Regions from separate parts of the Homo sapiens genome. Here regions 1, 3 and 4 are each linked to region 2. Evidence: fine-mapped expression QTL. A gene starts in region 2. Each other region holds a variant in brackets. All regions are shown on one strand. Distances are between the middles of the regions.

The links.
Region 1: its variant is fine-mapped to the expression of PLXNA4 in whole blood (INTERVAL, PIP above 0.99).
Region 3: its variant is fine-mapped to the expression of PLXNA4 in esophagus muscle (GTEx, PIP above 0.99). The same link has a PIP of 0.9 or more in sigmoid colon and stomach.
Region 4: its variant is fine-mapped to the expression of PLXNA4 in blood mononuclear cells (TOPMed, PIP 0.99). The same link has a PIP of 0.9 or more in whole blood.

What each region holds. Positions count from the first base shown.
Region 1 is chr7:132,548,352-132,556,456 of GRCh38, forward strand. The region is part of intron 1 of PLXNA4 (plexin A4); the gene reads right to left. Among named protein-coding and RNA genes, the nearest start is that of PLXNA4, 24 kb to the right of the region's middle. The variant G/T (reference allele first, on the strand shown) is at 4,901.
Region 2 is chr7:132,572,573-132,580,677 of GRCh38, forward strand. It overlaps PLXNA4 (plexin A4), which reads right to left and starts at 3,898. Exons shown (of 32, transcript NM_020911.2): 1 at 3,850-3,898. RefSeq lists enhancers at 2,382-3,359, 3,360-4,337.
Region 3 is chr7:132,394,988-132,403,092 of GRCh38, forward strand. All of the region lies in intron 3 of PLXNA4 (plexin A4), which reads right to left. Among named protein-coding and RNA genes, the nearest start is that of PLXNA4-AS1, 47 kb to the left of the region's middle. The variant C/A (reference allele first, on the strand shown) is at 3,644.
Region 4 is chr7:132,482,051-132,490,155 of GRCh38, forward strand. PLXNA4 (plexin A4) reads right to left here. Exons shown (of 32, transcript NM_020911.2): 3 at 7,242-7,424. Among named protein-coding and RNA genes, the nearest start is that of PLXNA4, 90 kb to the right of the region's middle. The variant T/C (reference allele first, on the strand shown) is at 3,734.

The sequences.
Region 1 (8,105 bases), 24 kb before region 2:
AAGTAAGGTCTTTATTTATTGGCTTTTTAAAAAATGTCCCACCATTTTGTATGTATTTGGGGGTTTTGCTTGTGGAGAGAGCCCAGGAGTGGGACATGGAGGTAGACAACACTGATAACAGTGAGAGACGCTGCCAGGCAGTCTGAGTTCTCTGTTCCTAGCCCTGGGCCAAGAGAAATGTGCTCTGACCCAAGGTTAGGCATGTTCTCACCCAAGACCAAGACCAAGGATTCTCCTAAACATTCCAATAAATACCCAACGTAGCTTTTAAACCTTAATCTGTTATTTCCTAGTTTGCAGAGTAAAATATACCCTGTCAGAAGTGTTTGAACCAGAGTGACTCCATCTTGAATAGGGGATGGGTAAAATGAGGCTGAGTCCTACTGGGCTACATTCCCAGAAGGTTAGGCATTCTTAGTCACAGGATGAGATATGGGTTGGCACAAGATACAGGTCATAAAGACCTTGCTGATAAAACAGGATGTGGTGAAGAAGCTGGCCAAAACTCACCAAAACCAAGACGGTGATGAAAGTGACCTCGGGTCGTCCCCACTGCTCATTATATGCTAATTATAATACAGTATCATGGTAAAAGACACTCAGGCCAGCACCATGACAGTTTACAAATGCCATGGCAACATCCACAAGTTTCCCTATATGGTCTAAAAAATGGAGGAACCCTCAGTTCTGGGAAATCTCTGCCCCTTTTCTGGAAATCTCATGAATAATCCACCCCTCGTTTAGCATATAATCCAGAAACAACTGTAAGTATACTCCATCAAGCAGCTCATCCTGCTGCTCTGCCTATGGAGTAGCCATTTTTTTACTCCTTTACTTTCTTAATAAACTTGCGTTTGCTTTACTTTATGGACTTGCCCTGAATTCTTTTCTTGTGTGAGGTCCAAGAAAACTCTGTTGGGGTCTGGATCAGGATGCTTTTCTGGTAAGGCCCCTATCATCATCCCACCTAAGAAAACAGGAATCCCAGGGAACCTAATTTCCCCTCGTACAAAATATTTATTAACTACTCACACCCTTGAGGTGTCTTGGTAGGAACTGAACCACTTAGTTCAGACATTGGAAGTGATTCCAAACTTGGCTACTCATGAGAATCACCTAGGGAACTTAAAAAAAATCCTGGGTCCCAACCCTGGTGATGCTGACACATTTGGGCCCTCCCAAGATTTTTGAAAGCTGGAACCATCAATGCAGGAAAAACCTTAAAAGTGAGTGGACCCTAAAATCTTCCTGGGGGCAGATTTCCGTGCTTCTGGGAGGGTCATTTCCCTGAGTCATTACCCTCCTTAGTGTTCTGGAAAATGGCAAAGTACATCAAATGCAGGGAGGATTCCTCAGCAGTCATGACAATTGCTATTTGGGTTAAGTTACTGCTACATCTTTAATATTCCCTTGGGGTGAGTTGTTTGTTTGTTTGTTTGTTTGGGGAGCAGCATGGGGGCTAGGATTTTTTTCTTAAAATGACTTTAGAATGCTCAGCTTATTTTTGTGGATGGGCAGACAAGTTATAATTCAAACCACAGTTTGAACATTAGGTAGAGAGAGGTAGAGTTATAGTTTGAAAATTAGGCAGAAGAAGACAGCACAGGTGGGTGAGATCCTCACTTTACAAGAAGGTGGAGGCTGAGCCCAGGATCCAGTTGCAGTTTGGAGCACCAACCCAGACTTTGGGGTTGGAACCTTGTTCTGCTGTGGCTGTTCTGTGGGTTCTATAAGGCTAGGGCTATACCCCACCTGCTGCCCAAGGGTAAGGTTTACCCTGAAGGAAGTGAACGTTCCCTAGGAAGACAATGAAGGCTGGAATGTGGGTCTTCATTGCAACTCAGAGTACCCCTGACCCCCACAGCATGGTGGTGAGCCTGCCCTTCCTCTAGGGAGCAGGATGCCCAGGAGTGGGGCATGAGGCACCCACAAGTGAGGACAGGTCTAAGCCTGGAGATGCCTACAGTGGCTACCTTTTGAAGAAGTGTTAAGTTACTCTCTGTGTTTCCTTTATTACCCTTGATCCATCAAAAAAAGTTGTATTCAGACATACAGCCTGATCTCTTTGTGCTGGAAGGAATCTGGGGAAGGACCTCTTCCAGGCTAGGATTAACAGGGAGAATAGCAATGAGAGGGAGGGGTCAGCATTTCTTCAGCTGCAGGAGGCAATTAGTAGACACTTAAAGAGGATCTGAGCACAGCTCAGCTAATTTAAAAAATCAGCATAATTTGAGTTTTAACCAAAATATGACTTTATTTTGTATTTGCAAGGCACCAAGGTCTGCTATACACAATTAACCTCCCCTGTCCTCCCCTCCCTCAAGGCTTCTGTCTGACAGACTCAGCGGGAGGAGGAAAGGAAGAGTCCAGCTCCTCTGCTGCTGATGACCCTAATAGTCCTCCTACCCCACTGGGCTGCAATGACCACATCTGCACCTATAGTCCCTCATCCAATTTGGGACTTATTGCAGTGCAGACCTTAATCCTGGTCTCTCCCTGACCTCCTGGCCACTCACACACCCAGTATATCTCCATGCTGTCCCATAGACACTTCAAACCCAGCTCCTCAAAAACAAGCCCCACCTCTTCCTTCTCCTGCATTCTCTCCCTTTGCTAGAGCACAAGCACCCACTCGGTCCTCCGTGCCCCTCAGCTGCCTCATCTAATTCTCACCAAGACCCACTTCTGGGCCTCTGCCTTCCCTTCCACTTAGTACCTCAGGCCCAGTCCTCATCATTTCTCCCTTGGACCACAGCAGCAGCCTCCTGACAATTCCCCAACACTCAAAGTGCAGTCCTGGCATGCCGAACTTGGAGACAGCGAGCTTAGGTGCACACCCAGGTCCCCAGAGCACTCAGCAGCTTTCTTCACACATTTTCTCTTCCCTTCTCTCTTGACCAGATACAGAAGAGCCAGTGGGAAATTGAGAAGCCCTTAACAGGATGGTGGAGCCACAACATGGAAGGAACCTGGGCTCCTGAATGACTGTATGGAGCAAAATCCCCCCACATACTAACCCATATTGAACTGTGGTGGTTTGTTACAGAATTAACCAGCCATGATTAATAGTGAGCAACTCAAGAACAAAAAGAACAAACCTATAATAGAAAAGCAATGCTTTTCCATTCACAAACCTTTCATTACAAAATGCCGGTCGTGTCCTACAGCCAGAGTAGTGAGTATACCTCGCTGGAGGCTGCAAGGGCCAGCCAGTCCCCATACACAATCAGAGCTCTCTGCAAAAGACGTAATACCACCAGCCCTGTACTGTACTCTCTCAATTGCCCTCTAGTTTCCCCACCCCAATATTGCAGTGTCTATGATCACTGAAGGAAAATGAAATATGATTCTAGGTGTCACCTTTCAAAGGGTGTTAGTGACTGTCAGCTAAAGTGATTTAAGCCCCGGAAAAACCTCTGTGTCCTTTTAACATCCAAAACTAATCCTCTTCACACCAGACATCGATGTTAAATAAACAGAGATTTCCATTAACCTACACCTCTGTACATCTATTTTTAAAAAGCGGTGTCACTCTCCTTTAAATGAACATACTAATTAGTGTATTAATAAATAGCTGAATGGAATCAATGAGACATGTAATCAAGGTCTGACCAGGAGTCAGGGCCAGGTTGAAGGGGGTGGGGGGAAGGAGAGGAGGGAAAAGAATCTTATTAGCAGGTTTGCTGAGGAGGGACATGTAAAATCAATGCTGCACATGCAGCCAAGATGCAGCCGAAGTTGACAGTAGATGGAAAGCTAAGTGCTTGCTCCGCCTCCTTCCTTTGACAGGAAAGCTCCCGGTGAGAGTTAATGTGATGAGCAAGGAAGACATTAATTGGGGCAGGAAAAGCCATTCAGAGATGGTGTCCAGGATCACAGCTGGCAGAGTTACCCAGAACCTCAGTGCTAAAGCCCTGACTCCTAGACCTTGTTTTAAAACACTAAGAAAGAACACACTTACGAGAGTTGATTTAGTTCTCAGCAAACACTTGGTCAAAAAGAAGTCACAGGGGGAGTTATTTGTTTGGGGCTCTTTGTTACTCTTACCCCCCTTCAAAAATTCTGGTTCACAAGCAGTAGCTGGAAGTACCTTTGCCCCAAGATGCTAGGCACTGGGAAATGAAGGGCCTGGATTCTCTACAGGCAGCCCTGGGGGTGGGAATGGGGCAGCCCGCTTCTTCATCAGCTCCCAATTTCCTGTAGCACACCCCATAGCTAGAAGGCTCTGGAAGGTGAGAATAAAAAGTCCTTCTGCAAGTGTGAGGTTTCCAGCTGAAGTGGTATCTGATTACCCGAGCCGCTGCTCACTGGATCTCAAATTAGCACTGATACTCCATTTTCTTCATCTGGAGACACACCCCCTTTGGGCCACAAAACACTGGACAGAAGAAAAGTGGACTTTCATTTCCCTAAAGATTAATATCAGGAGAAATGCCTTTCTGTATAAAATCAATTAGGTGCCTGAGACCCTCACCCCAAAGCCAGCTCAGTGATGCTAGTTGAAGTAGAAGTTGTGTTAGGATAAAAGAAACTCAAAAAAAAAAATTTGCCTTGGGGCCAGTACTGCCCATTACAAGCCCTCTTAGGGGTGATTCTGCCAGGAGGCAGGGGATTGGCTTGTTAGCAGTTAGAATGCTTGGCTCAGGATTCTGGGGTGCTATGGGCTCCCATGCCATGAAACTGAAGTTCTTCCTAATTCTGGTTGCTGGAAAAGCCAGTATCTCTGGGTGGACCTCACAGGCAGAAAACCTGCTGCTCTGAATGCCTAGCTCTGGCACGGCATCCACACATGGATGATCTAGAAGCCTTGCAGATGCGTCCTGAGATATGTTTCTGCCAGCCCCAGGCATGGCCTGCAACCTGCTCACCCTGAGGTCAGCATTTCCTGGAATGACAGGGA[G/T]GACACACATAAAGGAAGTGTGGGGACATGGCAGGAGGCAGCTCTCAGCAGCCCTTAGGCTATTTTCCACATTACTGCGAATGGTATTTTGCCCCCAGGAGGTTCATAACAGTCAGAAGGATCTCCAGGTTCCCCAGACCCATCAGAAAAGCCAAGGGGTGATGGTCATCAGCCCAGGGGGAGAGCTTCCTGACAGGGTACATGAAAATTAAGTGCAAAAGAGGGGCCAGAGACAGCTGTCCCCCAGCTCAATCTGAAGCACAGGCACCTAGAGAATGGCCACACATAGGACCTTCCCATCTGGTTTGAGAGGTCCTAGCAAAGCACCCCTGCACCAGTCCATATCTTACTCCCTCCATTGACGTGCTAAAAGTCTGCCACTGGAACATGGTTTCTTTGGGTCAAGCATCATGCTTTCTCTTTCAACAACCTACACCTTAGTGTACCTCCTCCATCACCTCTGTTTTTCTGTGGCCCAAGGATAAACAGAAGAGAGTGGAGAGGGTGCAAACAGCAGGGTCCCCACTGATCTACATGGCTATTTGCTGAGAATTAGGGAGTGCTGTCCTCTCTGGTTGACCAGAACTTGGTAAACAGAAGGCATCTTGGGGGAAGAAAAGGGCAACTCTTCCTGAGCAAAGAGATACACCAAGCCTTGGCCAATAAAACATGAGCAGAATTTCAGCCCTTATTTGCTCCCAGCTCACAGGTATACACACTACAGTGTATATCACCAAAAGCCCTGTCTAAAGAAAGAAAGAGAGAAATAGAGAGGAGATACCCAAGTACTTGGGGCAAAATTCAACTATTTCTCAATTTTGCCCAAGGATACCCATTTGGAGATAGATATAGATATAGATACATGACTATTTTCAAACCAAAAATATCAGGACACACACTCAAGCAATGGCACAGAATATCTGAAACACAGGCTGTTCTAGTGAACACAGGGCCTGTGGTCACTGTAGAAGGGCTGAAGAGTAGAGGATGGCAGTGACAAGGACCCTGGGGGGACAGTGTGACAATGAGGTGCCCCTTTTCCTTTAGGGGACAGAGAAGCAATGGCAAATCTCCCCATGGTGTGCTATGTGGTGGAAAGACCACCTCCACAAGACCAGAGCCGGACTCTCTGCTCACAGATGTCCCATCACCTTCAAAATACACTGACACACTCCGTTTCCAGAGTCTCCAAGCTTTTGTTCCCTCTCCACAGGGGCAAATCACCTTTCTCCACAGTCAACCAGTGGTTCTTTCCTCTCTCAGCCCGAGTGTTGCTGGGAATAATGCAATGTTTCCAGCTTAATCGTTTGTCATCATGCAGAGATTTCACTGATTTCAAAGCTAAGGTGCCTGGAAGAATCGAGCACGCTCTGAACCAGGGTGCCTCAGGGCAGAGGGTTCTCACTGGCTGGCTGGCTTTACACAGGAGAATCCCAGAGGCCCTTACTCACCAGTTTAAGGCTATCTTTCCAGGAAACCAGGGCCTGGGGCTGAAGACAGCTGAGATGGGCAGTGTTCATAAATATCACCTATTGGAGGCAAGTGAGGACATCCAAGTATGCAAACACCATGTACACTGAACACACCTCTCTGGTCTCTGATGGACCACTTCAGCTTTCTGACTTCGTTGCAGGCAAACATTAGCAGATGCCCCATCCTGCAATGCTTGGCATAATTATCAGGTAGGCTCCAGGCAATAATTACTCACTAATGGTTAGCCACTGCTTTGAGCCAAGAGTCTCCTATCTGCTCTCCCTACACCAAATTCAGAGTCTTGGGTGGTAAACCTGAAGGAAAAAAAAAAACAAAAAAAAAACAGTAACCATCACCATGGCCTGGCAAAAAAACCACATTATCTAAGATATCACTCCAGGTCCTATAAAAATAACGTATGTTTACATGTGGATGGCTGATCTGAGCACAGATTGAATATATAAACGTGGCTGTTAATTCTAGACTCTGAGAAAATTCTGAGTCTTCCAAAAATAAAGGAATCCCTACAAATATTTTTAAATCTTTTTTTAAGAGGTCATACTCTGACAGAGAGCCAGAATTAATGCAATGGGACCAGCCACCTGCTCTTCTTCCCTTCCCATTTGCTTATAGAACCTCAAGGCAGTAGACTTGTTGAAGCCCAGTGTTAGAAACAGATGTGACTATTTATAAACCAAGAAAACTGAAGTGTTTTAATCCAACACAGGGTGGCAAGAAGCAGAACTGACAAGCTTTAGGAATCTGAAGAACAGGCAACAATTTTCAATAATATTACCTCTCCACTTATTGAGCATTTAATATGTGTCAAGCAGTGTGCAAGCTATTTCCCACGTATTATGTCACTTAATTGTTAGAGCAGTCCCTTATTTTACTCTTTTAATGATAAGGACACTGAACCTCAGAGAAGACAGGTAACATGCTGACGCCACACAGCTGAGTAGCCAAGGCTTGATGATGTCTGTAAATTACTTTAAAATGCATCAGCTTAAACAGAGTGGTATAATGTAAGTTAGTTCCAATCCTTACCCAAGGATGGTTAGTCGACATCTGAAGTATTGTAACTAACCAGGGCTGGTGACTTAGCCTTTGAAAGCCTTGCATCAGAGTCTACACTGTTTGTTAAAAAACATAAGAGATGTTGGAAACAATTTATCAGCAGGAAATTAAGCAGTGTCGAATATGCATAATTGGTTAGAAATGCCATCCAGGCATCTCTGCCCTTTGGGCACAAGAATCTGGCAAGCCTAGAGCCCTCTGTGGCTCCATTCTTGGCCTAGGGGTCCTACTAGGGTCTATTTCATCTCTCAAAGGATGCTGTCCTCTAATCCCACTAGAAGGTGAGCTGAAACCTGCAACCACATTGCCACATCTGCCTCAAATAAATCTTCCTTGAAATAAACTTGTAAGAGTTACTAAGTCAGTGCCTCCCAAACTTTCTCACTTCCTGACACTTGCAGAAAGTGATAATATTTTTACCACACCCTGGGGCCAGAGAGGGAGCTTCTGCTGCTGCATGCCCCTCGTGCCCTCTGGCTGTCCACCTGCAGGGTTGAGGTGACCCGCTATATCAGCAAACCTTGATACCCTTCCCCGGCACACTAGTTGAGGCAGACAGCAGGATCCACACTGAGCTTCAAAAACAGGCTGTATGGCTATTTATGTGCCTGGTTACTAACAAATATTGGTAGGTAGGGTAGAATTGAGTCTGCAA
Region 2 (8,105 bases):
CTGGGCTCTTGTTCCAGGGGAATCAGGACCCCTGCCTGCCTTTCGTTTTAAAATCCATCTCTTACCACTCAGCAGCAGAGCCCCCTTCAGTCTCCCTGTGGGCTCCACCTTCCTACCGCAACTTGAATGGTACAGCCTGGGCAGTGAGGACAACATGAAAGAAGAAAGAAAAAGTCTGTGCAGCTAGAGGGGATCAGGTGGGAGTCTGGGGAGGGAGCAGTGGAGCTTGCAGCTTTTAAAGAGACAGTGTCCTGTCCACAGGGCCCTGTGTGGACCAAGCATAGCTCGATAGAGCCTATAGGCCAATTACCCTAATCATGTGCATCTCCCAAACAGCCATTTATTAGTGAGACGTCTTTTTAAAATGCCGCTTTTAAATATAAATAACACTTAATCATCCAGCTGTCGTTAAATTCATGTTATATTGATTTCTTGGAGTGCCGCAAATTTGAGGGCGAATGGGCTGGCGGATGTGCGCACAAAGCCAAGAGGTAGATTAGCAAGTGGTGGGGGCAGAGAAGTGGGGGTTGGAGGAAAAGGAAGGGAGGTGTCAAGGGAGGGAAATGAACCTACTCAATAGCCCAGGGTCTGAGCCAGTTTCACATTGGGTAGCACTGGACACAAATAAGAAGAGAGGAGACGCTGGCACATCTGTTGCATAGTCTAATGAGAGCCAAGATCATGGTCGTGTTTTCTGTATTGCTGCCGCCCCCTTGTAACCCACCACAGAGCCGCTCCAACAGGTCTCTGATGTGCATTGTCTGCGTATGCCTTCTCTAGGTGAGGATGGGGAGAAGCAGCTAAGAAATGCCCCCTAGCTGGCTAGGAGGAGAGAGATCCACAGCGATTTCTCTGCATCAAAGCCTGATGATAACTATGAATCAAGAGTGGTTAATGACCCAGCCCCTTTAGCTCTCTCCCACTTCGGGACTGCTGCCATCCTAGAAAGCCCCCACTTCATTCCCAGCAGCCCTCATTGTGATGAAAAGGATCCCGAGGCCAAGTGTATGTAGGCAGACTCTGCCGTGCAGATTTCCCTGTCTGCAGGGAGTAGCAGCAGCAGGCGACAGGAAGGCACAGAGAAGGAGAAAGGAAACAAGTTGACTGCCTTGGAGTCCTCCAGAAATGTCTGCAGTGTCCCAGTGGGCATCCAGGAGGAAGTCCTGGGAGGACAGATGAGAGCCCGGGGAGGCGTGATTGGGTAAGAAGGAGCAGCTTGTAGGTGACCCATGCCTAGTGCTCACAGGAGAGCTGCCTTAAGCACCGTCTACCAGGCAGCGAGGGTCTGCTGAAAAGAAGCATTCATGGCTGGGGTTTTTCTAGTGTGACTCCCTTCCCAGTGAGAAAGACCTCAGAGAACTTAAAAGGAAGGGCACAGAAGAGTGGCAGAGAGGGTGAATGACAGCGTGGCATGCTCCAGGGCTGGGCAAGAGAGCCAGGAAAACGTAATGTATACTCCGCTTTACAGAGATGTTAATTAATGCCTGCCTTGTCCTAGAAACCAAATTGGTACCTAATGCTAAGTGCAGAAAGTGCAGAGATTTTCTGAACCCAGATGTTTAGCTTATAACCAGCATAATGATACTAGCTTTGCATTAAAATGATGGATCCTGAGGCTGCGAATACATGAGAAAGGAAAGAGGGTAGGGAGGAAAGCAGAGAAAGGAGTGGAGGTCTACAGGGAAGACACAGACATTTCAGGAAGATCCTGTACCCTATCCCTTTGCCTCTTCCAGGTCCCATGAGGGACTGTTTACCTGGGAGGCACCCACTGTTGCTGGAGCTCATTATTTCTTTTGCAAACCATGTGCTGCTGTACGCGTAGGTGGGATCTGCCTGTCCACGCCCTCAAGGGGCATGTGGGGAGAAATGTTCCATTTCTTCCACAGCCCGGAAGACAGAGGTGGACCCCATTGTCACACATGGCGGGGGCGGGGAGCTGACCACATTTAGCCAGACTCTGAGAACGCATGTGTGTATATATATTGGGTGTGTGTGTGCACACGCCCACCATTCTTAAAAAGCAAATAAGGTTTCTTCCCCCTACTGGGGTCTCTCCATTGTGAGAGATTTGCTTTATTCCATCTATGCTTTTCAATCAATCAAAGGGCAGCTCACACAGCACACAGCGGGAATACAATCTCCCTCCCGGGGTGTCTGCGCTTCTCCCCAGCCTAGCCAGAGACCTTTGCAGGAGCTGAAAAAAGTTTGGAAATAGCGGAGTCAGGGTGCTGAAAAAGCCCTTTCATTCAGCCCCTATCTTCAGGATTTACAAAAACAACCCAAATTCTGAGCCTAGCACTGAGGCCTCCTTGTTCAAAAGAATGTTTGCTCCTCTTCCATCATGTTCTGTAAGGCTCCTAACATATTTTTTCCACTGGTGGGTCTGTGGGATACTCTGAACACATGATCTTGGACAGAGGGTACAAGCTTATTCAGTTTTGTGGGAAAATGATATGATCATGTTGCCTAGAAAGCTACCTCAAAGTGACAGCACCAGAAACACAGGAGCTTGTACATATATATTCAATTCCGAATTTGATTTGGATCTCATGTTCTTCTCCCTATGACAACTGAGACCCTAAATTAGTTGCTCTTAGACCCCAAGAAGGGAACTATGGAAAAGCCTCTTAGAACCCCAGCCACTTCCTACCTCCTCCAGAAAAAGTTAAAATGAGCAGCCTGTGAAATTCCAGCCAGAGAGAACAAGAATGAAAATGCTTTCGGGAAATAGGACCTTAAAGCACGGGCGTCTGGGGAGTGATTCTACAATCGGAGCAGGCTTGGGCTCTGGGGGACGCTGGCAGACCCACGAATGCCTTGCCTTCTCCGGTGGGCAGTGCCGCCACGGTCGTGAGGGAGGGGAGCCTCCTCTTTTGGAGGACTATATCCCTCGTGCTTCCCCCTTCTAGTTCTCTTTCTCAGACACACACCACGAAAGGCATGTGACAGGTGTTCGCCAGCCGGAGGCACCGGGGAAGGCAGCCCCATGTGCCCAGGGAGGGTAGGGAGGTGAGAGGGGACCCAAGTCCTGTGTCTCCAAGTCCTGTCTGCTTGCTGCTAAGCAGGCACTGAGGCTGTGAATAAGGTCTTACCTTTTAAGGAGGATCTGACCCCCGTACCTTCCCTAGACAAGCAACATACGCGGCGATGCTTTAAGCCGCTTTCTGCCTGAAATCTCGGCGCATTCCCGGGGAAGCAGTGCCACGCTTCAGAAAGGCGTTTGTGCTGCCTCTTACTGGGGAAACGCAGTGTCTGTTTCATATGCGCCGCCCTACAGAACTGCAGCCCCAACCGCCTATCTGGCCTCCTCCCCGGGCGCTGGGCCACCACTCTCTCCAAATATGCGTCCGAATATCTGTGGGTCTGTCTCCCGTTGAAATCCCAGGGTGTCCAAAGGCCACGGGGCCGCGATGACACTGGGTAGGTCTCCGGAAACCTCTCAGGACTTCTCCCATTTTAAAGCCCAGCTAGGGACGAAAGGGGCTGGGAGCTGAAAAATTGCTCCCTCAACCTCCCCGGGTGGGAGGCAGAGCCGGGAATACACAGAATCCCACCCCGAAAGTCCCGGGAAAGAGAAGTCTGAGTCCAGGAGCGTGAGAGGAGAACACACCCGGGAAATCCCTGCTCCGGCCGCTGCACCTCCGCGGGCGTCCAGGTGGGACGTGGGCAGGTGCGCGAGCGCCGTGTGTGCCGGTGTGGATCTGTGTGTGTGCCTGCGTGTGTGCGTGTGCGTGTGCCGCGGGCTGGCTCCGGGACACTGAGGACTCCCGGGTCGGCCCAGGTCTGTCCGACCTTGCTGCCCTCGCCGCCCGCCCGGCCCCACTCCCCGGCGGGCCGGCTCCTTACCTGGACGCGCCGCGTTTCCCTCCTTCAGCGGGAGCGCCGCATTGACACTGCAGATGGAGCCTATGCCGCTGCCTCTCGCCCTCCTCTGAACGTGTGCGTGTGCGCGCGTGTGGCTGCCTCCTCCAGCCCCAGCCCCGAACGCAAATACTCCACCGAGGCACAGGGAAGCCGGGAGCAGCCGAGGAACGCGGAGGGCGCCGAATCAGAGCCTGCGGGGCTTGACAGCTTCTCTTGCGGCGTCCAAGGTGGGCGTAATGTCCAACAAAAAGGTCGGAAAATGGGGATCGATTCCGAACACCCCTTTCCTCCACCCAGCCCCGGAGCCCGAGCAGCGGCGGCGGCTCTCGGGGGCTGCGGTGGCGACGCCGGGCTGCCCCCCTTCGTCCCCACCCCCGCGGGCTGAATGTCCTTGATGCCAAGCGGGCACAGCGGCGTCACTCCGCGCCGCCCATGCTCGCCCGGTCGGGCCGCTGCCCGGGCGCGGCGAGTGCGCGGGGGACCCGCCGGGGAGCGCTCTCGGCGCCTCTGCGCGCCTCTCTGGGTAGCGGCGGCCGCCCCCCGGCAGCCCGCGGCCGGCCGCGCCGCGGCAGCCCCCACCCTTGCCGAGACACTCGCCGGGCAGTGCCCTGGGGCCGGGGCTGGGGGGCCGCGGGAGCCGCCGGCTGCTCCCCGGGGAGGCGCGGGGCTGCGGCGGTGGTGGCTGCGGCGGCTGGCGCTGCGGCGGCGGAGAGCTCGGCCGCGGGCCGAGCCGGGCCTCCCGGGCGCGCCCCCGGCCCCCCGGGCGGGCTGCTCGCAAAGTTTGCAGGGGGCAGGGAGCGGGGCCGCCGCTGGCTCGGCCGCCGCCGGAGCTCCCGGGCTGCCTGCTGCCGCCGCGGCTCGCTGCTGCTGTGCATTGAAGCCCGGCCAAGCGCTGCAAAAACTCCAGCTGCCTGGCGCTCTCTGGGTCCTCCTCTCCTCCCTCCCGCCCTCCCTGCTTCCCTTCCTCCCTCCCTCGCCTCGCCTCCTCTCCTCCCTGCCGCCCGCCGCCCGCCGCCGCTCCCTCTCTGGCTCGCTCTCGCTGGCTCGGAGCTCGCGGCTGACATCTAGAGCGAGGGAGAGCGGCCGGCAGAGGGGGCAGGGGGCGCCTCCCTACATGCTCCCACCCGCCGCCGCCCGGCTTGCCGGCTCTCCTCCGCACCAACGTTTGCCGACACCCCCCTGGGTCCCCTCGGCCCGCACGGAGCTACCCTGGCGGTGGCGATGTGGGGCGGAGAGAGGGGCATACATGGGTGACCGGAGCGCACGGCGCGCGCTCAGAGGGAGGCGCTCAGCCGCCTCGGAATTTGCAGCTCTGGGCGCTGGCCGTCGGAGGGACCCTCAGGTGCTCAGAGCTGACACAAGCGCACACTGACTCTGAGGCATACACCCATTGCTAGTCAGAACCCCTCCCAACACCCCACCAAGTCACCCCCACATGGCACCCAAGGAGGCCGAGGACACTGAGGGCACAAGGCCCGCACGAGAGAACATGAGTGGCCAGTGCCCCAGAGCTGGCTTGGTAACCTGACTTTTCCATTCATGTTTATACTGAGCGGCTCTCCTGGCTCCTCTCTTCTCTGAAACCCTAGATCCTAGACTACATCCAGAACAGACCATGCCAACATCAGGGTGGTTTCTGAAGCCCAAAGAAAGAAATCACCATGTAGCTCTGGTTTAGGCAGTGAAGATGGGGAGTGGGTGGCACTACCTCCCAAACCTCTGCCTAGATCCCCCTAGGAATGGGCCCACCCACCAAGAGAAACCGAAGGGATTCCCACACCTGTTAACTCAACTCTGTGCATGCCACCCTCATCCTCATACCCGCTCCCACCATAGTCTGAGGGAAGTGGCACCTTCAGCAGAGTCCAGTAAGCATTCCCTGGGATAGGCAACCAGCAAGGACGACCCTCTAAAGGAGCCCATGGCTCTTGGCCTCCTCTCTCCTGTCCCTTCTTTAGTTTTCACTGTCCTCACACCCAGAAACTCCCGCCCATTACTGTCCCTCCCATCGAAACATCTCAGAGCCTCCTTATTAGGTGGACATGACTGATAATGGCTTAAATGCCTATACCTCCCTATAGGGGTTATATTCTCACAGAAATCGAAGTTGTGTGAATTGGGGAGCCTTTGAAAGGAGCTGTGAGATGACAGCTTAAACAAGCCCCAAGGTGAGCGGCACATATAGGTCAGGCTTGGCCCACCCAGAGAGGACCCTGCTGAAACTTTGCTCTCACCAATGAGAAGATGAACCAAGCCAGAATGAGGAGGAAACCACATGTTTGATTCTTTGGTTAAAGGATATTCCAGGAGACAGCGTGGAGCCCTTTTAGTCTCTGGTTCTCTGCTGAGTCTTGCATGGCCCAGAAAGCAGCAAGGAGTTATCTTATTAAGCTTACATGAATACATTGATCTGACTCCACTCTTCCCAGAAACCCTGAATCCCAGACTCTAGATAAAGCACACAATATCAGGTTAGTTTCAGAAGTCCAGAGACACACATAACAAAATCACTCAATGCTACTGCCTCTTGAACATCCTTCCAGGGTGGAGGAAGCCCAGGGCCAAATGCCTCTCTCTGCAAGACTGGGATTAGCACAAGGCCAGCCGGGCACTGAGGATACAAAATCCAAGGAGGCCCTGTCACCCCAAGGTCCATGTAAGGTTTGCATCACCTGATCCTGACACTGCTTCTAGGTGTCCCTTTTAAAATTGCTGCATGGGTCCATCACGGCCCATTTCCAGAAGTGACAGCCCGGATAGCCCCATGAAAGTCCCTAATGGGTTACTTAAGGAATATCGTTCAATTAAAGGCGCGGGGGAGACTCCTTTCAAACTTCTGTTGGCCACTCAGCTTTCAGGGTATGTCATAAAATGCTGAAAGGAAGGGGGGAAGGTGAGAAAACAACTCTGTCTCAATTCTCAGTCATTCTAGCATGTATTTTTAATACAATCTGATTGTCTTTTTCCTCCTCATATCGGTTGTATTTGTGTGTGTGTGCGTGTGTGTGTGTGTGTGCGTGTGTGTGTGAATATGGCTTGAGTTCCAGGCCCATTTCCTGATGGATGGACGGGAAGTCAAAGACCTTTTTTTTTTTTTTTTTCCAGAGGTGGCAAATAAAATGTGTTTATTATTCTTTATCTCCTGCCTAGTGTGTGGTGTCATTTATTTTCATTCAAAGAAATGAATGCCATGTGGTGCCTGAAGAGTAATAACAGAGCCAAATGACAGGGAAGACACACAGCAAAAAGCTGGACCAGCCACGGGCAGGTGAGGGGCCCAGCGAGCTCTCCCGTTGTTAATGGGGCCAGGGGCCATATCTCAAATTGCCTTTCCCCGGTTGCCTTCCACTGAATAACACGGTAAAAGGCATACCAAAGGGGGCAGTTATCATATTATCGGAAGGAGGAGTAGAAAGGGTCAAATTAGCTGCAGTAGAGGATTTTTTTTTTTCAGTGATGACCCATTGGATTGACTCCCTTAAGTTAGGAGAATGGAATGGGGTGGGATGAGTAGGGCCTCTACATTGGAAGTTAGAAAACACATGTCCTACTCCTGGCTCTGTCATTGGCCAGCTTTACAATTTGGAGCGGGTCACGTCCTCTCAATGATACCTCATCTCTCACCTGACACATTCGCCCCTTAGAGTTGCAATGACATTCAAAGGACATACCATCTTATTAATGTGCTTTGAAACTCTAAGGTAGGTACAAAACACATGTAGGGAATTAGAGTCGCTTTCCAGATGAATGTATCTTTTTATTTTTTTCAAATAGAATGATACAATGAGGGTAGGCCTTCTGCTATCTTGTCCCCACCCCAAGAATAAATACACAGGCAAAAGCAGCATCTTACCACAGTTCAAAATGTGTTTCTGCATTAGGTACAAGATCTTCTGGCTCTCACACCTCCTCTACCCCCTCTCCCTTGGTGAGGGCTAAGGGAGACACAAGTAGGACCATCTAGGTGTCCCCTACTGACAATGGCTCTGTGAGTCACTCCCTCTACCTCTTGCCTGGTCGTGAAACTGGTTATGTCATTGTCTGGACCCATGGCCACAAGAGGGAGAAGCTAAATGGCACATTGCTTCAGAGAGTCCTGTTTTCTAAAGAAGCTATGTCTGTGGGACTTGGGTTGGGGTTTATTGCTGGGTTTAGACAGAAAAAGTATTGGTTCATCTCCCACAGCTGAATAAAAGGACCAGTTTAATAGGAAAGAGGAGAAGAAACTCTTAAGTTTC
Region 3 (8,105 bases), 180 kb before region 2:
AGTCCTGCCTTTCCGGGGCAGGTGTGGCTGCACACTCCAGCGAAAGTGAAGCTGCATCTCTCTGCAGCCTTACAGCAAATGGGTAGCCACCACAGCTGCTGATAAACAGCTAGGGGAGCCATTGGCCAAATAACCCACTTTTCACACCTGGAAATAATGGGGGAAACACTCAATTAGGCATTCAGGTGTAGGTCTGGACTGGAGTGGAAGTCACAGCCTGCCCTCCAGGCTCCTAGAAATCACTGGTTTGAGGCTGTTGCAGGATGACAGGACCATGGGTTTTATGGGGGCTAGTTGGCATGGCTGAGGACAAGGGGCTGGCTGGTGACCATTCAGGCAGAAAGGAAGATGAGGAGTGGGGACAAGATGAATAAGCACTTTCTTTAGAGTCTGAGGCCCTGTGAGAGGAAGAAATCAATGGAAACCTTGGGAGGGACCCCAGAGAGAGTCCTGCTGAGAGAGGGTGTCGGCCAGATAAATTTGATGATGCAGCACTGAGTGGGGGCACAAAGTCCTATTTGAAGTATTGCAGGCAGGCTGGCACGTGCGTCCCACCTGTGCATCTCATGTCTGGCCATGTGGCCCCTGACATGCTGCTGGGCAGAACCAGGGGGAAGCAGCAGCCAGTTAAACCCTGGCACCCATGCAGGCAGCCTCTGATAGGCAAACAGCCTGGAAGCTGGGAGCCTCAATTAGCCTCTTGGAGAGAGGGGAGAGTATTACTTGATTTTCTTTGCCGCCCAGAAAAAGCAAGAAGTCCAGATGCAAGTGCAATCCATGACCACTTGCTCTAGAAGGAATGACCAGGATCCCCATGGCCGGGAAACAAATGATGAAGCCAGTTAGCAGCCTGATTCCAAATTAGAGTTTCTCCCATTATACCTATGCCTGTACACATGTTCAAGACACAGAAAGCTTTCACTGTTTGGGGGTATTTTGTTTTCTCACAAAATATGGGCAACTGGTATCCCAAGAGCTGCCATAGTTTGGTGAGATATAAATTTCTGGTCCTTTAAGCCTCACTGGAGATAGACAGTGATGTTGCCTGGGGACTTCCTGGGACACACAGCTGAACAAAAGTAGGGGTAAGGCAAATGTACCCTAGAGATGAGGAGCTGTGGTCAAAGTGATCACATCAAGAGAAAGCCTTCAGCCAGCCCCCTGGGATATCCCCACAATGGATGGGCAGAAAGGACTCTGGAGACTCAGTACAGATACTGAAGAGTATGCCATGCTTTGAAAATTGGGGAGTTCATAAAGGGAATGGGGAGAGCTGCAGGTTCCCTAGGTATCTATGGAAGTTTCGGAAAGAGATGAAGAATAGCCAACACATATGTAGCACTCATATAAATTAACTCTAATTTTCACAACAGCACTGTAAGATAAGCACTATTTTTATCCACACTTGATAGATAAGGAAGCTAAGCCACAGAGAGGTTAAGTAGCATGTCCAAGGTCGAACAACTGATTAGTGGCAGGGCTGGACTTGGGTTTTGGGTTTTTTATTTTTTTTGTTTGTTTTTGAGACAGTCAACCCCTATCACCAAGTATGGAGTGCAGTGGCACAATCTCAGTTTGCTACAACCTCCGCCTCCCAGGTTCAAGCAATTCTCATGCCTCAGCCTCCTGAGTAGCTGGGATTACAGGTGTGTGCAACCATGGCCGACTAATTTTTTGTATTTTTGGTAGAGGACGGGGCTTCACCATGAGATGAGGCTGGTTTCAAACTCTTGGCCTCAAGTGATCCACCTGCCTCAGTCTCCCAGTGTGCTGGGATTACAGGTGTGAGCCACCGCGCCTGGCCAGCAGGGCCAGACTTTGAACCTCAGGAGGCTTCTCCCAAAGCCTGTGCACTCTTAACCACGGTGCAGTGCACCCTCTCCAGAGTGAAGCAGGATGCTCGTTTCTTTAGGGAAAGACCCTGCCTTGGTGTGGGAAATAGAGCCTCCAGGGGCGGCCCTGCCCCACACCTGCCTGGGGCCTAGGGAAATCCTGCCCCAAGATCCAGACCCAGACACCTGCCACTCTGACAGCTGGCACAGGGATGGGGGCTGGGGACATCACACCACCCGCATTCTCTGCAGGGATACCCAGCCATCCATTTTAGGCTAAAAGCCTTCTCCGCATCTCAGCCTTCCCCAAAATTTTACAAATACTAGAAGATAAAAGCGCAGGAACCAGCATGAATGAAGTTGGTTTTTAAGAGACAGTGTTTAACATCAAGATCCTTCTGATGTGAGTAATTTGGATTCTGATGCAATTCTGGATTGTTTGTTGAATTATGCATCAGCAGCTTCTGTTGCTGTAAAAAGCACCACCGTCACTCGAGCTAATCTGAAACCTGCAGCAATGAAGACAGTTGGGTTCACAGTTTGGATACTGAGATGCGTCTTTGATGATAGTGAACCAGCAGAAGGAGAGAAACAGACACAAGGGCAAGTGGAGAGCAGGTAGTAGGAAGAATTGGGGGAATGAGGTAGGATTAGGTGCTTTATTTACCACACACTCATGAGAGCCCCATGCTGGGAGAAAGAAAAGACCCAAAGAGGTGAGCAGATATCAGCTTCCCCCAAATCCAGGAAATTCCACAGGATACAGAAAGACAAGAACAGAGAGAACCAGGGATTCATTCTGGCAAAGGATGAAGCAGCTCCTAGACTGTCAAATGCCCACTGTCTCTACCACCTGAAATATGATGCTCTCCTTCAAGCTCTTGACCTATGCTGGGGGCCTTCCTACTGGGCCAAAGGCCATCATGGTCATCATTATTAATTATTTTCTCAGTGTTTTAATATGTATTTCAGGTTGATATCCTTATTTAAAAGCAATAGCTAAGGACAGTATGCCTATTTGACGAAGGGCACAGGGGAGAAAGGTGATATACCTAAAGTCACACAGCTGCTTAGCAACCGGAAGGAAATTGGAATTCCAGTCTCCTGACTGCCAGTCACCTTCTCTTCCATCACCCCAGGCTTTGCCATCTCACTATGGAGGCTCCCAGGATCTCTGACAACCCATCAGACCCACTGCTTAGGCTGGGAATGCCAAGTCCCATGCCTGGAGCAGTAGAAAGCAAAGGCACCAAAGCCCCAAGCTAAGCCACCTAGTCCAAAGCCACGCTGTGCCTCTAGCATGGTGTGTCCCTGAGCAAGTTATGGAACCCTTGGTGTCTCAGTTTCCTTATCTGCCATAGACGCCTGATAATAGTTCTTGCTTCATGGAATGAGATGATCCATTTGAAACCTTTGGATCAATGCTAAGCAGAAAATAAATATAACCTGCCATTTTCATTATTGATATTCTCCTGTGAAACTGTTGTGACTTCAGAGGACTGATCCCAAAGCCTGCCAGGAAGACCCTGCTGAGTGTCCCGCTCTCCTGAATAGCCCATGTCCTCACTATCACAGGTTCTATTCGTGTCGCAACAAGGAACCACACATCCAAGGCAGCCAAGCCAGGAGGGCCCTGGGTGTGCGGGAGTCAGCTCTGTGGAGATGCCGTCCATGCCCGGTCTGACGGGAACCCCAGCTCTGCGTTTCTCCTTTTCATGAAGCCAGTGAGCCAAAACCACCCTCCTGGGCTGGCCCAGTTTAAGAGCCTGGGCTCCAGGGACGCAGGGAGGCCCCTCAGCCCAATTATAAAT[C/A]AATCTAGCAGCACTCACTGAGGCCATTGCCATAAATGGCTCTAAAAGCTCAGCCTCTTTCGGCCCAATAGGCTCAGGGCTCCAGGATTAATGAGCATCAGCTGCCGGCAGGCTGGTGGGGACAGATGCCGACCTAATGAGCACAGTGGCCCAGCCCTCGCCAGCTCGAGGTGGACAGGGCTGATGAGCAGGTGTCATTGTCATGATGCCCCTTTGCCAAGTGTCACTTTGAAAGGGAGGGCTGTTGTCATCAAGTGGCATCTTATTACCCCACCTCAGGACACCCACAGGAGATTCTAAAGGCTGTCCACAAAGATGGCCTTTGTGGCTGCCACCTCCACTCCTCAGCTGGCCCTGGCACCAGGTTTTTCTCAAGGCCTCTCAACCACAGGGCTGGATAAGGGTTTTAGAATCCTGGGCATCCCCTCCCATCCCATGCCATCTGATTGGTGCTGCATTAAAGTACAGAGGTCCCTGCTAGAATTTCCCTCAGTCACGTCTCTATTACACCCACGGGCTTCAAGTTTGCCTGGAGTATTTACACACAGTTCTGCAGATTCAAATGGATTCAAATGGGCGCAAGGGCTCAGCATCACACTGGTCACCAAAGGGACACAACCCAGTCCCTGCAAGACATATCAGCTTGTATGTCAGTCAAAGACACAGGCCTTAGAGGGACTGATCATAAGCATAAAACATAGCAACAACAAAAATAGTCATGATCACTTCTTCAGCATTTATTTTGTGCCAAGCACTGTTCCACGCTCTTTATATGTGCTGGCTTATTTAGTAAATGTGAATGAAAGACTCTGAATAATAAGAGTCACGTTATATTAAGGCAGTCAATGCAGGTGAAACAAAAAAAGGAAAGATCACTTCGGCTGACTGGAGAAATCAAGAGAGGCTTCATGGGGGAGGCGGGACCACACTGGTCCTAGTGCAGTCTGGGAAGAGTGTTCCAGAAGCAGAAGCAGGCACACCTGGGCAGGGCTACAGTGAGTTTGCTGAAGGTCACACATCTGTGCTTTGGAGGGCAGAGCTGCAGGGCCACAGGTATATTCAATGTAGTGGGTTCTGGCATCTGAAAATGTTGTTAGGATGAAATTTCAAAATCAGGTTTTATTCCTGATGAAAGTAGACTGCTCTTAACTGGGGCTTCACTGCTTCTTTTCCATTTCTGTTTGGAGTGTGATTTTTTTAAGGTAAGATGTACACGCAATGAAATGTGCAGATCTTCAGTGCACACTTTGATGAGTTTTTGACAAATGCCTTCACCTGTGTAACTAACAATCCAATCGAGATCTAGAATACTTTCATGGGCATGAAAGGGGAGGAATGTGACCTTTGTGATCAGATGGTCCCATACCTACATCTTCTGGGCATTTGTAAGTTGGAATAAATCAAAATAATCAACTTCCTCCCTTACCCCACGCCAGTCCACCTCCTACCCCCGGAGAAAAAATAAAATAAAATTCATCCACATCTAAACAGACAAATGCCTACCTAGTCTGTCTGTGTATTTGTTACCTTTGTGCCCCAGAACCAAGCTTCATACCAGGCACAGAGTGAATGATCCATACGTGTTTCTTAAAAAAAGGAATTAACATCCTCAGATTAAGGTCTCCCAGGAAGTAAAGGACTCCACTTTCTCTAAGTTCCCATGTGACACTGACAATTATATTTTCCTGTCCTCTCTGTTGAGATTAGGAAGGAGTCCCTAGGAGGATGCAGAAGAGTATCCTTTTGTCCTGTCTCCTACCTGTCACCCAGACTCTTGTGTTCTCTACAGCCAGTCCATCTTAGGCCTCAAATTCCATATGTTTGACAAAATCAAGCAGGTAGTTCAAGGTGCTCGTCTCTCCTCCCAGCTATTCAGCAGACAAAATCTGTGACATAATGTACCCCAGCCTCAGACACGCTCACCCTTCTTTCCCAGGCCCTGTGTGAATGGGCCAGGCCACTCCTTGATAGTTTTCAGGCAAAACACATGAGAACACTCCCAGGAAAGAGAAGCCTCCAGGGGTACCATCCGTATGCATACCACGCATTTACTTCCTAGCCTCACCAGCGTTTTGGGTGTGGCCACAGCTACTCCCCAAACCTTTCATCTTGCAAGTCCCTAGATGTCCTCCTCGGGAAAGCTCCCTGCGCACAGCTTGTGGGAGACTGCAGGCTCATAAACAGCATAAGCCAGCATTCCAATCAGATTATTTCTCACTTGCAATATTGCACAAAGAGAAAAAAATAATGCTGAACATTCTGTTCGTGGAAGAAAAAATAGCAGGAGAAAACTGTCACATTGTTTGGTCTATTTTCAATTTCATTCCCGAGCCCTGCAAATAGCTATCTGTGCAAGCAGGCCAGAAGAGGACTCCAGCGACCTGACATGCACGATCTCAGATCAGGTCTCTAGGGCCTGTGAAAAAGGGAGAGACCTTTGGCTGGCACATATCTACACATGTGATAAAATTGCACAAGACTAAATACACACTCGCCAATGCAAAAAACTGGTGAAATCTGAATGGATAAGCTTGGTGGGTTGTACCAGTCAATTTTCCATTTGTGATATTGTACTATAGTTATGCAAAATGATGCCACGTGGAGGGGAGAACTGAGTGAAGGGTACAGGAACCCCTCTGTACAATTTATTGCAATTGCATGCAAATTCACGATTATCTCAAAAGGCAAAGTTAAAAAAATGCGCTTCCAGTGTCTGATTTAATGGGACTAGGTTGCAGCCTGAGCATCAGAGTTTTAAAAGCTCCCTAGGTGGTTCTAATGTGAAGCCCAGGCTGAGAACCTTTGCTCATGAAGGTTGGGAAGGTGAGACACACACATGAAATCCAGAAACAATCAGCATGTGATACAGTACCAAAAGCTTCATGAATACTTGTGGAGCAAATCAGTGAACTGCTGAACAGACGCATAAGGTTAGAGGAAGTCCGGTAGGATGAGGGAAGACTTCATGGTGAAGTGGAACTTAATCAGGACGGGGCATAAGTGGAGAATTCAGAGGACGGGAAAGGGCCCTCTAAGCCAATAAAGAAGGGCTCAGAGATTGTGTGGCCATACTGGGGAGGAGGGGAAGAACTGAACTTGGGGACAGCTGAGGAGTGAAGATGGATAAAACTTTTCATAATAAACTGGCTCTATCCCTGTGCTTAGACGAGTGGATCTTTCAAACACCTGAACCAGCTCTAAGTCCCTGCAAATTGCCAAGAGCAATTTTCAGCAAAAAGCCAATTCCCCAGAAGGCACTTGGCATCTCTCAGATAAGCAAAAGAGGGGGAGGCTGGAGAGGCTTCAGAATATAGTATCGATGGGTATAAAAGTAAGCAGTCCTTGTCATGGTTCATGTCACTTTGCCTGACTGCACTTCAGCTGGCCTTAGATTCCCCAGTCGAGAGCCCAGCCAGGTGCTAGAAAATACCAGAAATGACCCGGGAAAGGGTAAAATGGAAATCTCAAGCCTACATACCAAAGCGAATGCACTTGACTCAGCAGGTCCCTAGAGTAATCATGCAACACCTCTTTATTCTTATTTTATACACAAGTCTAATAAGCTTGAGTATCTGTTTCCAAGCCCGTAGCAAATTAAAAAGAACAAATTAAGTGGCAGCAGGAGAGCTGCATCAGACAGGATCAGTGACAACAGTGAGAAGTGACAGGTGCCAGACACCCTGACGGTAGGCGGGGAGACAGAAAGCTATAAAAAGTAACTTGGGGCACTCACCTAACATGAGGAAGCCACCCTAGCGAGGCACAGGGGCTCCATTGTAAAGGTGGAGAAAGAGCTTTAAGATACTCAAGTCCAAGTTCTAAATGCCTTGGAGAACATCTCTTTGCCTTTTCCTGTTATTAATTAGTCCAACATACACACAGGGGAGAGGGGCAGTGTGCTGCTGCAGGCTGCCACTATGGGAGGGGCAGCTGGCTAATCATCTTATTGCAGGAAATACCCCCTGCCAAAAACACAGCTCCCCTCTCAAAGCCTGCTTTCTCACCTTGTAGCACTGGCCACTGCCATCACAGGGTATGCAGAGCAAAGGACAGGCTGCTCCCGAGCCGCTCAGTCCATCGGATCAATCAGGTTTAACAAGGAGGCATCCGAGGATCAGGAGAAACACCTCCTACATTATTACCACAGCACCATCACTTTGCATGAGACAGGTCTGGCTGGGAACGCCACCTCCAGCATGGACAGAAACTGCGTGTCCTTGACCCAGTTGTTTCATTTCTTGTGCTGAGCACGCCCACCCATTGACCCCCAATCCAGAGAGCTAGTGTTGAAGAGCTCATTAACAAAACACAAAACACTCAGCTGACGCACCGCCACCATGCAAATGCGTAATAACTGGATCTCTCTTCCCCCACAGCTAACCTCAAGCATCTCTTCTTGGCCAGCTGCATTGCCTTGGCTCTCTGTGTGGTTCAGAGCCAGAGAGGGCAGGCTGGGCAGCCA
Region 4 (8,105 bases), 91 kb before region 2:
TTGAAAGTATGGGTTCAAGTCCCCTCAATGGCTGAGAAACAAAGCCCTCATGTAGAAGGCAGCCTCCAACATAGCCCCCAGTGATCCCCACCTCTGGGTATTCATGACCTACAGAGTCCCTTCCTGGAGTGTGAGCTGGACCCACTAGCTGGCTTCTAAGACATAATACAGCAAAGGGGATGGGGTGTCACTTCTGAAACCAGGTTTCAAAAAGACAATGGCTTGCACCTTGCTCAGCCTCTTTCTCGCCCCCATCTCTCAGACATCGTTCTAGAGAAGCCTGCTGCTGCACTCCTTGTTGTGCACGTGGCCTCATGGAGGGGCCCACATGGCAATGTAGGGATCTCTCAAGTGAGGACCTGAGGCTTGCCAACAAACCCGGGAGTGACATTGGAGGTAGACTCTTCCCCATTCTGGTCTTTAGCAGTGGGATGACTGCAGCCCCAGCCAATACCATGACCCTAAGCCGGAGGACCCAGCTGAGCCATGCCCAGATTCCAGAACCACAGAAACTGTATGTATGATAATAAGTGTTGTTCAAAGCCTCTAAGTTCTGGAGTAGTTCACGGCAATCGATAACTAATACACCTGTGTCTCCTGGGCCAGGAGAGAAGGTATGGAGTGAGTGTGGGAGCTTCGAGAAACTTTTTTTTTTTTTTTGAGATGGAGTCTCACTCTATTGCCCAGGCTGGAGTGCAATGGTGCGATCTCAGCTCACTGCAACCTCCGCCTCCTGGGTTCAAGAGATTCTCCTGCCTCAGCGTCCTGAGTAGCTGGGATTACAGGTGTGCACCATCATGCCCGGCTAATTTTTGTATTTTTAGTAAAGGCAGGGTTTTACCACGTTGGTCATGCTGGTCTTGAACTCCTGACCTCATGATCTGTGTGCCTCAGCCTCCCAAAGTGCTGGGATTACAGGGGTGAGCCACCGCGCCCGGCCGAGAGACCTCTTTTAAAAAGTCACCATGGATGCTTCTATGAGAAGCCAGAACTGCTGCGAAAAGCAGCACCATGACATCATCAATAAGCAAGCCCAGTGGACACATTCCCAGGAAGTTCCCTAAGAACAAGTATGGACTTTCAGCAGACCCCAAATCAGAACATCAACTCATGGGCTGTGAATTGGTCCAACTGCCACTGCCTTCCCCATCAGAGTGGCTGAGGAAATCATAGCAATTGCCGGTAACAAAGACCTCCCCTGGCTCTACCCTCGCTAGGAGTCTTCACTGGTATTGACATCAAGATTCTATTCTCCTATCCAGAGTCTAGCAGGTGTGAGCCCAGCAGTAAAAGGACCACTTATGGTTGGGGGCTCATTCCCTCTTCTTGCCTCTGCCTCCTCCCTCTTCCTCTGTACATCATGTCTTTCATCCTTTCCCATCTTTGTTGTCTTGGTTACATGGCCAGACTCCTAATATGCTGCTAGTTTTCATTTTAATGATATGTTTTTGTAAAGCACAATATTTTACTTCAATTGCATGTGTCACTGGATAAATTCCTCTAGTGCGTCTGACATTTGTGTATCAGCTGACTGAATGCGCTCTATGATTTGGGGTGTTTGTGCAGCACTTTCTTCAATTTTAATGTGTTTGCATTTTAATTTATGATCAGGATCTTTCTATACCAATGTGTGTATATATACACACATATGATTCAAAAAAGTGGCACACGTATCAATAAATCTTGAATTGGCAAAGCTCATTTAAGACTATCTCTTTAAATCATGTGCACTAGCAATGATCACTTGGAAAACAGAATGACAAGTGTTCCTGAGAAACTCTTTGCTGGGATTTCAATGTGTGTTTCAGGAGGAAGTCAGGAGGAGAATGCAACAATGCCTAGCTATTGGCTGCAGTAGAAATTTCACGATGAGAACACCTCCCCGGGTTTATTCAGGTCAGCAAGGAGGGACCACTTGAGATCCCCCAGGGATGTGCAGGGAAGGTGGGTGGGCCCAAGGGCAGAATAGTGAGAAATGGAAAAAGATAAGAAAAGAGGGCCAGTGTGGCCACACTTACATCAAAAGGGTGATTGAGTGAGGGCTTAATAGTGTTCAAGAATATAAAATATGTCCAAGAGGATATCAACCAGCTTAGTTGCTCTTTTAGTCAACTGAGTAAAACTTGGGAAGAAAGCTTAAAACATAGCAGAAGAGATTGAAACAAGGTGGGAGGAAGGCCCATGAGAAGTGGATACATTGGTCTGAGGCAAGATCAGTCTGAAGGGCCAGTCTTAGAATTCCCAGGCTGGAAAGACTAACGACAGAATGCCGTCTGTCTGTGGTTGAACGTGAAATCAGAGGAGGGAGGGTGGCACGCTGGCACACCTGTGGGATCTTCTGCCTGGAGCCCTTCAACCTCAGCCTCCCCTTCACACAACCCACAGGGTAAGGTCTATGCAGGTTTAATATTTGCAAAACCAGGGATGGAAAATGCAGACACAATATAGCAAATAGAGGGTCTTTTCCTGTCATGGAAATCGGTCAGCCCTGATGCTTCTGCATTTCTTTCCCTTTGTGCTTGTGATCAATCACACATGAACCCATGGCAGCTTGGGCTGGAGAAACATATAGCACAACAGAACTACCTGACCGAACCCTGTATCAAATACATATGCCCTCTGCCCTAACCACATGTTCCTAGTCTATTTGGTGTTCCAACATTGTATCTCCATTTGATTTCCTGACACTTCCATCCATCTGCAGGGCTTTCTGTGCTATGAATATTTATTTTTAGTTAAAGTGGATTCAAATTTCCAGAGTAATTTTAGGAAGAATTCCCAGGTACATTTAGGAAGCAACAAAGCAGAGGCTGGACTCTCTGATCTGATATTGCTTTGTGACTTGAGCACTGAAGATACACACACAGCATCTGTTCCTGAGAAGCAATGTTCGCCCCAGGTGGGTCTCCCTCCACTCCAATCCACTCCTGGGTGATTCCCCCTTGTGGACCTGTGCCGAAGGACTAGGGAACAAAAGCAAATTAATTTTAAAACAGGCTTGAGAAAAAAAAATTAGGAAGATTAAATTAATCTACATGACAATTCCCAATAAGAATGGTTTTTGTACTATATACTCCTATTGCCTCTTCATGGGAATGTGCACCCAGTACCTATTCAGAGAGGCTGGTATGGATTAGTCTGTGCACAGACACATGGATGCATGTCCCGCAACAGGCTAATAGCAGGGCCAGCCAGAGTTCCGCTTAACCAACATCCATACAGCGCTCCACCCCCTTAGGTGTGAACAGTTTAACCTAGCAAAAACATCCAGGGAAGACGCAATCACCAGCGAGAGGAGCAATCACACCTCAAGTGGAAGTTTATGATGTTTTGGTTCACAATGAACATTAGTCTCTCCCACTAATGTCAGGCAGTAATTCACCACTGAACAGCAGCCATAAAAATGATCGCTTAGTGAAAGGAAAGCAAGAGGCAGAGAAAGCAAGAGAGGGAAAAGATTCCAGCAGAAATATTCAAGCAAAGAAATCTCGTGCTTCTGAGACAACACTGAGCTGATTGTCCCAACTCAAGCCAAAGATTTAGGTTTGCTTGGCCCTAAAGCCAGTCAAGATGGCATTTGCCTTATGATTTTTACCTATAGTGGAAATGTTAACAGTCTGTAGGTTATTGCTAAGTTCCTAGACACCTGCTTATGACTGTAGTATTTATAGGTCATATTTCTTAACACACATACCCTTAAAGCTCACCACAGGAAGAGGCTGCCAATACCATC[T/C]GCAACACACACACATCAGAAAACATCAAAGACATCTAAATTGGCACTTTCCTCACCTCCTTTCCCCCCGCTTCATGTGACGTGTGCACTAAAGGAGTGAAATTACGGTCGTCAAAGACAAGGTTGCAAATGATTGGGACTCATGCCTTTCAAGCAAAATAAAAAGTAATTTTGAGAGCAGCCCACGGATAGCTCGGTCTAGCTCCTGGACCCCTGAAACCCACAGCAAACACCCTTACTCTTAGCATCCCCCCAAGCTCTCTCCTGCCCACCTACCCCCATTTCCAGTCTCTTGTCATACCGTAAAGAACTCTGAAAGGTCCTTGATACACACAGGAGATTATTACAGGGCTCAGAGAAACCAACTCTGTAATTATGGCTACAGTATGATTTCCATTATTCTCACGCCCTGGCCTCAGTCACTTGCAAAACTTCCAGCAAAATCCTCCTGCAGCTCCACAACTTGTCACGGCTGGGCCTCTGCCCAAAAGGTGACTGTGGTCCTGATAACCTCTGGGAAAAGCAAGTCAGAATTATTACAAGGAAAGGGGAGTGGTGCTTAGTGAGTGAGTGGGGGTGGGGAATTCTATTGTTCAAGAAAAAATAAATAAATGGGCCACTTTTGCTTTTTATTATTTCAAACAACAGACTCGGCAGCCCAGCCTTCCTTTCCCAACTCAGACTGTTCCCCTGGGCCAGCTGTGCTGAGTCTGCAGGCACGGGAGCCGGGCTTGAGCAAAACCATTAAAAGGCTGCCACTCCAAGCCTGCAGAGCAGAAAGTTTGGCCGCCCCAGTGGCCTGGCTTTCCCCGGGAGGACCGAAGGCTCATTCCCCCCAACTGACCCTTGCGCTCTTACCTTTCAAATGTTTATGCCTCACCAGCCCCACCACTGCTCTGGAAATTAGATAGAATATCCCAGGTGGCTGAAACAGAACTGTTCTTATATCAACCTACCAAAGTAAAAGATGGGAATGCCGGCCGCGGTTTATGAAGCCCCAGCCTCTTGGTGGGGTATTGCCTGTGTCACCTGTCACTGCCTGCCTGACCGACTGCTGGACTCTGTCCTTACCTGCCTCAGGAGGGTTGTCTCTGAGCGCCTTGCTGGCCCAGGCTCCTGGGGGTGTCCTGATCCCAAACTCATGGTGCTGCACTTGACCTCCCTGTCGGGGAACAGATTTGGACAGGCTTCCACAGGCAAGAGAGTACCAGTCACCAAATGCCTCAACCCACCCTTGGACAAACAGCACAAAAATGCAAGTTGACTATCTTGGGTTTACAATGCAGCCATGGTCAGGAAACACCTTCCTTTTTCCAAGAGAAAATAACTGTTTTGTTATGTGCACTGAACTCTCAATGTTCATTTCATTGATAACATTCACTGCCCAACCAGCTCAGACAATCACACACACACACAAATCCTCATCCAGGGTCTACTCCATCCTGCCAGCTAGTAAATGGTCCTCTGGCAGCTGGTAGGAAATTCAGCGGGTAAGACTCTTTTAGGGCAAGGCAGGAAGTTACTTCTACATTGCACTGAGATTGAGCTCACCGGAGAAAAGAGTTAAAGCATCCCCCATACTGCTTGCTGACTTATTTACTCTTAATGGTGCTCATTCACCCATTGCAGCAGGTGAAGCAGGTCTCAGTGCATGAATTGTACACAGTAATGCCCCCGGTATTTAGAATTCACTTTTCCAGCAGACCAAATTTGCCAAATCCTACTGAAGAATCGAGCCATCTGATTCACCTGCCCAAAAGCTCATGTACTTCTCTCCTCAGTGTGGACTGACGCGTGTCAGACACAATTTCAGAGTTTGGCTATCTGGTTTCCTAGCCCACCAAAGCTGGAAGCTGCAGAATGAGGGAGGAGGAAAGGTGCTGAAGTCAACCAGGATTCCTGGCAGCAACTGGAAGTGATGAGTGGCCAAGTGCATGAGAGGAAGACCCGGGAAGGCAGCAAAAATCAGACACAGGAGCTGTGTGGGGATAACATGCCCATGTCTCACAGCGTCTTCCCTGGGCATCCACAAAACTCAGTTCAATATGTGAACAAAAATCACGAGGAGTCTGAGGCAGCAAGGAAAGATTCCATTGCGCTTACCATTTTCTTCACAGAACGGAGGTATGAAATACAATTCTTTGCAGGGAATTATGAAATACAATTCTTAAAAATGTGTACACAATGATTTTGCTGTTTTTTAGTTGTGACACTGAAGGCGGTCCACTCAAATTAGGCAGTTACTTCCTCCTGGGCAGCACCTGCTGTGTGGTACATCATGGACACCATTCTTGCAGAGTACCATGGTGTTTCCCCAGTGCTCATTGTTTTCTTTCCCAGTCATTACCCATAGAATTACTCCACACACAAGTTCCCAAGTCACAAACACACTCTGGGGTGCCCGCCTCTTGTCCTCCACATGCTCCCATTCCAGACACACCACCTGTCCGCAGAGATGCCAACAGAAATGATTGCTGGGCTGTTACATTGTTGGATGGTAAAATAGGCATAGTCCTCTAAATATGCCCAGAACATTTCCTCTTGACCATCCAGAGCTAGCAGCCAGAAATACAGCAAAGGGAAATGGAGGGATTAAGGCTTAGTCTCAATCTTTACTCAATCTGAATCACACAATGTCCAGAGAACCCCAAAAGAAGCCAAAATAAAGCAAGCAAGAGCTCCACATGGAATCATCAATATTTCCTGGGAAAGGACTAAAATGCAATTATTGGCCAACAGGAAACAGGACCTCCTGCCTACCACCTTAGAAGGACTTTTAACCCAATCAAGAAGGGCATGCACTATAGGGCCAGTTCCAACTCATGAGATGAGAAGCCTGAACACAAAACATCCCTGGGCGGATGACTGCTCCCAACACAGCTGATGAGCCAAGATCGCCCAGGACTCCAGAACCTGCCAGCTTCCGGAAGATGCAGGGGAAAGGTCAGGTCCCCAGATCATACCATCTGACCTCACCAGAGCAATTTTCATGTTCCCATTGCACCCGTGGTTTTCTCAGCCCACAACTTGGCTCTGGGCCCCATTTGCAACTTTAATAGGTCTGCACTTTCCTCCATCTGTTCCCTGAATGCATTCCAGATGATGCAGCAGCCAGAAGGGCTGGAGCAAGGGGAACAGGCATGTCCCTTCCCCCTGCCCACCTTCCCCAATTGCTCAGACCTAATAAAGCCTTTGCCTTAAGGGCACAAGCCCAAATTGAACACAGCATACACCATTTAGAACAACACTGCAAGGCTGGTCTGACACCTCTCATGTGCACACCAGCTCTAGGGAGGAGGTGAATCCACACACTCACCCCACAACCTCAGCACAGAGGCAGAGAAAGGACAAGATGATCATCATGACCTCAACAGCAGCGTATCTCCTTAGCTCAAATCTGTATCACCTGCCCACACGCCCAAGTTAGCAAAAAGATGTAAGATAACATCCAGCCCAGGAGGGACAGACTGTCTTCACAGTAACCAAAAGTACTGCACCTCATTCCTACCTTCTTCAGCTTGCCACTTTTGGTGCCCACAAAGGCCAGAGAGTGGTTCTTGTAGACATATGCGATGACAGACGTCATGCGGTCCCTGTCCTCCGTGAAGACGGGAATTCCACGCACCATGTCGGACACTCCCAGGGGAGCATTCATGTCCAGGCCACAGAAGTTATCGTCAATGGTTAAGAGCTGCAAATTTTAAAAAGAGAAAAATTAGAAGGGAGCGTCAAGGAAATTGGCAGAGATATTAAGTCAGGAAACTATGGAGGTAGAAGAATCCTTAGAGATGAAACATCTGGTAACAATCCCTCTTTTTTACATGAAAAACGTCACTCCAGAGAAACTAGGTGACCTGTGAAGAGTCACCTGAGTGGGCAGGTGCAGGGACATGGCAGAAAACACAGGTCCGCAGGTCTCCTTTCTCCATAATCTGTGTGTCTCTGCCCCTCATCCAACCCCTCCCAGCGCCATCTTGGGAGCTTTGTCCATCATTATTATCATCATCATCCTCACGTGGAAAAGCCTCACGTGGAAAAGCCCTGGGTCAGCCCAGATGAGCAGGGGCTCCAGGCCGCTCTGCTCAGGCACAAGAGGGATGTGGTCTCCGTATCTATACACAAAGAGGAATGTGGTCTTCGTATCTATACAGAAGAGGGATGTGGTCTCCATATCTGGAGCAGACACACACATGAGGACTCAAAAGTGTAGACTAGGGAACTGAAAACATTAGCATGTAAGTAGCACTATCACAACAGAGGCATGTGCAGGCAATCAGCTGGGGAAAGGAGCAATGGGGGAAGGAATGTGCTGATTCAACTCAATGTGCCACAGCTGGTGCTTTATGAGCTCCGACCTCAGGCTCCCTGTGTC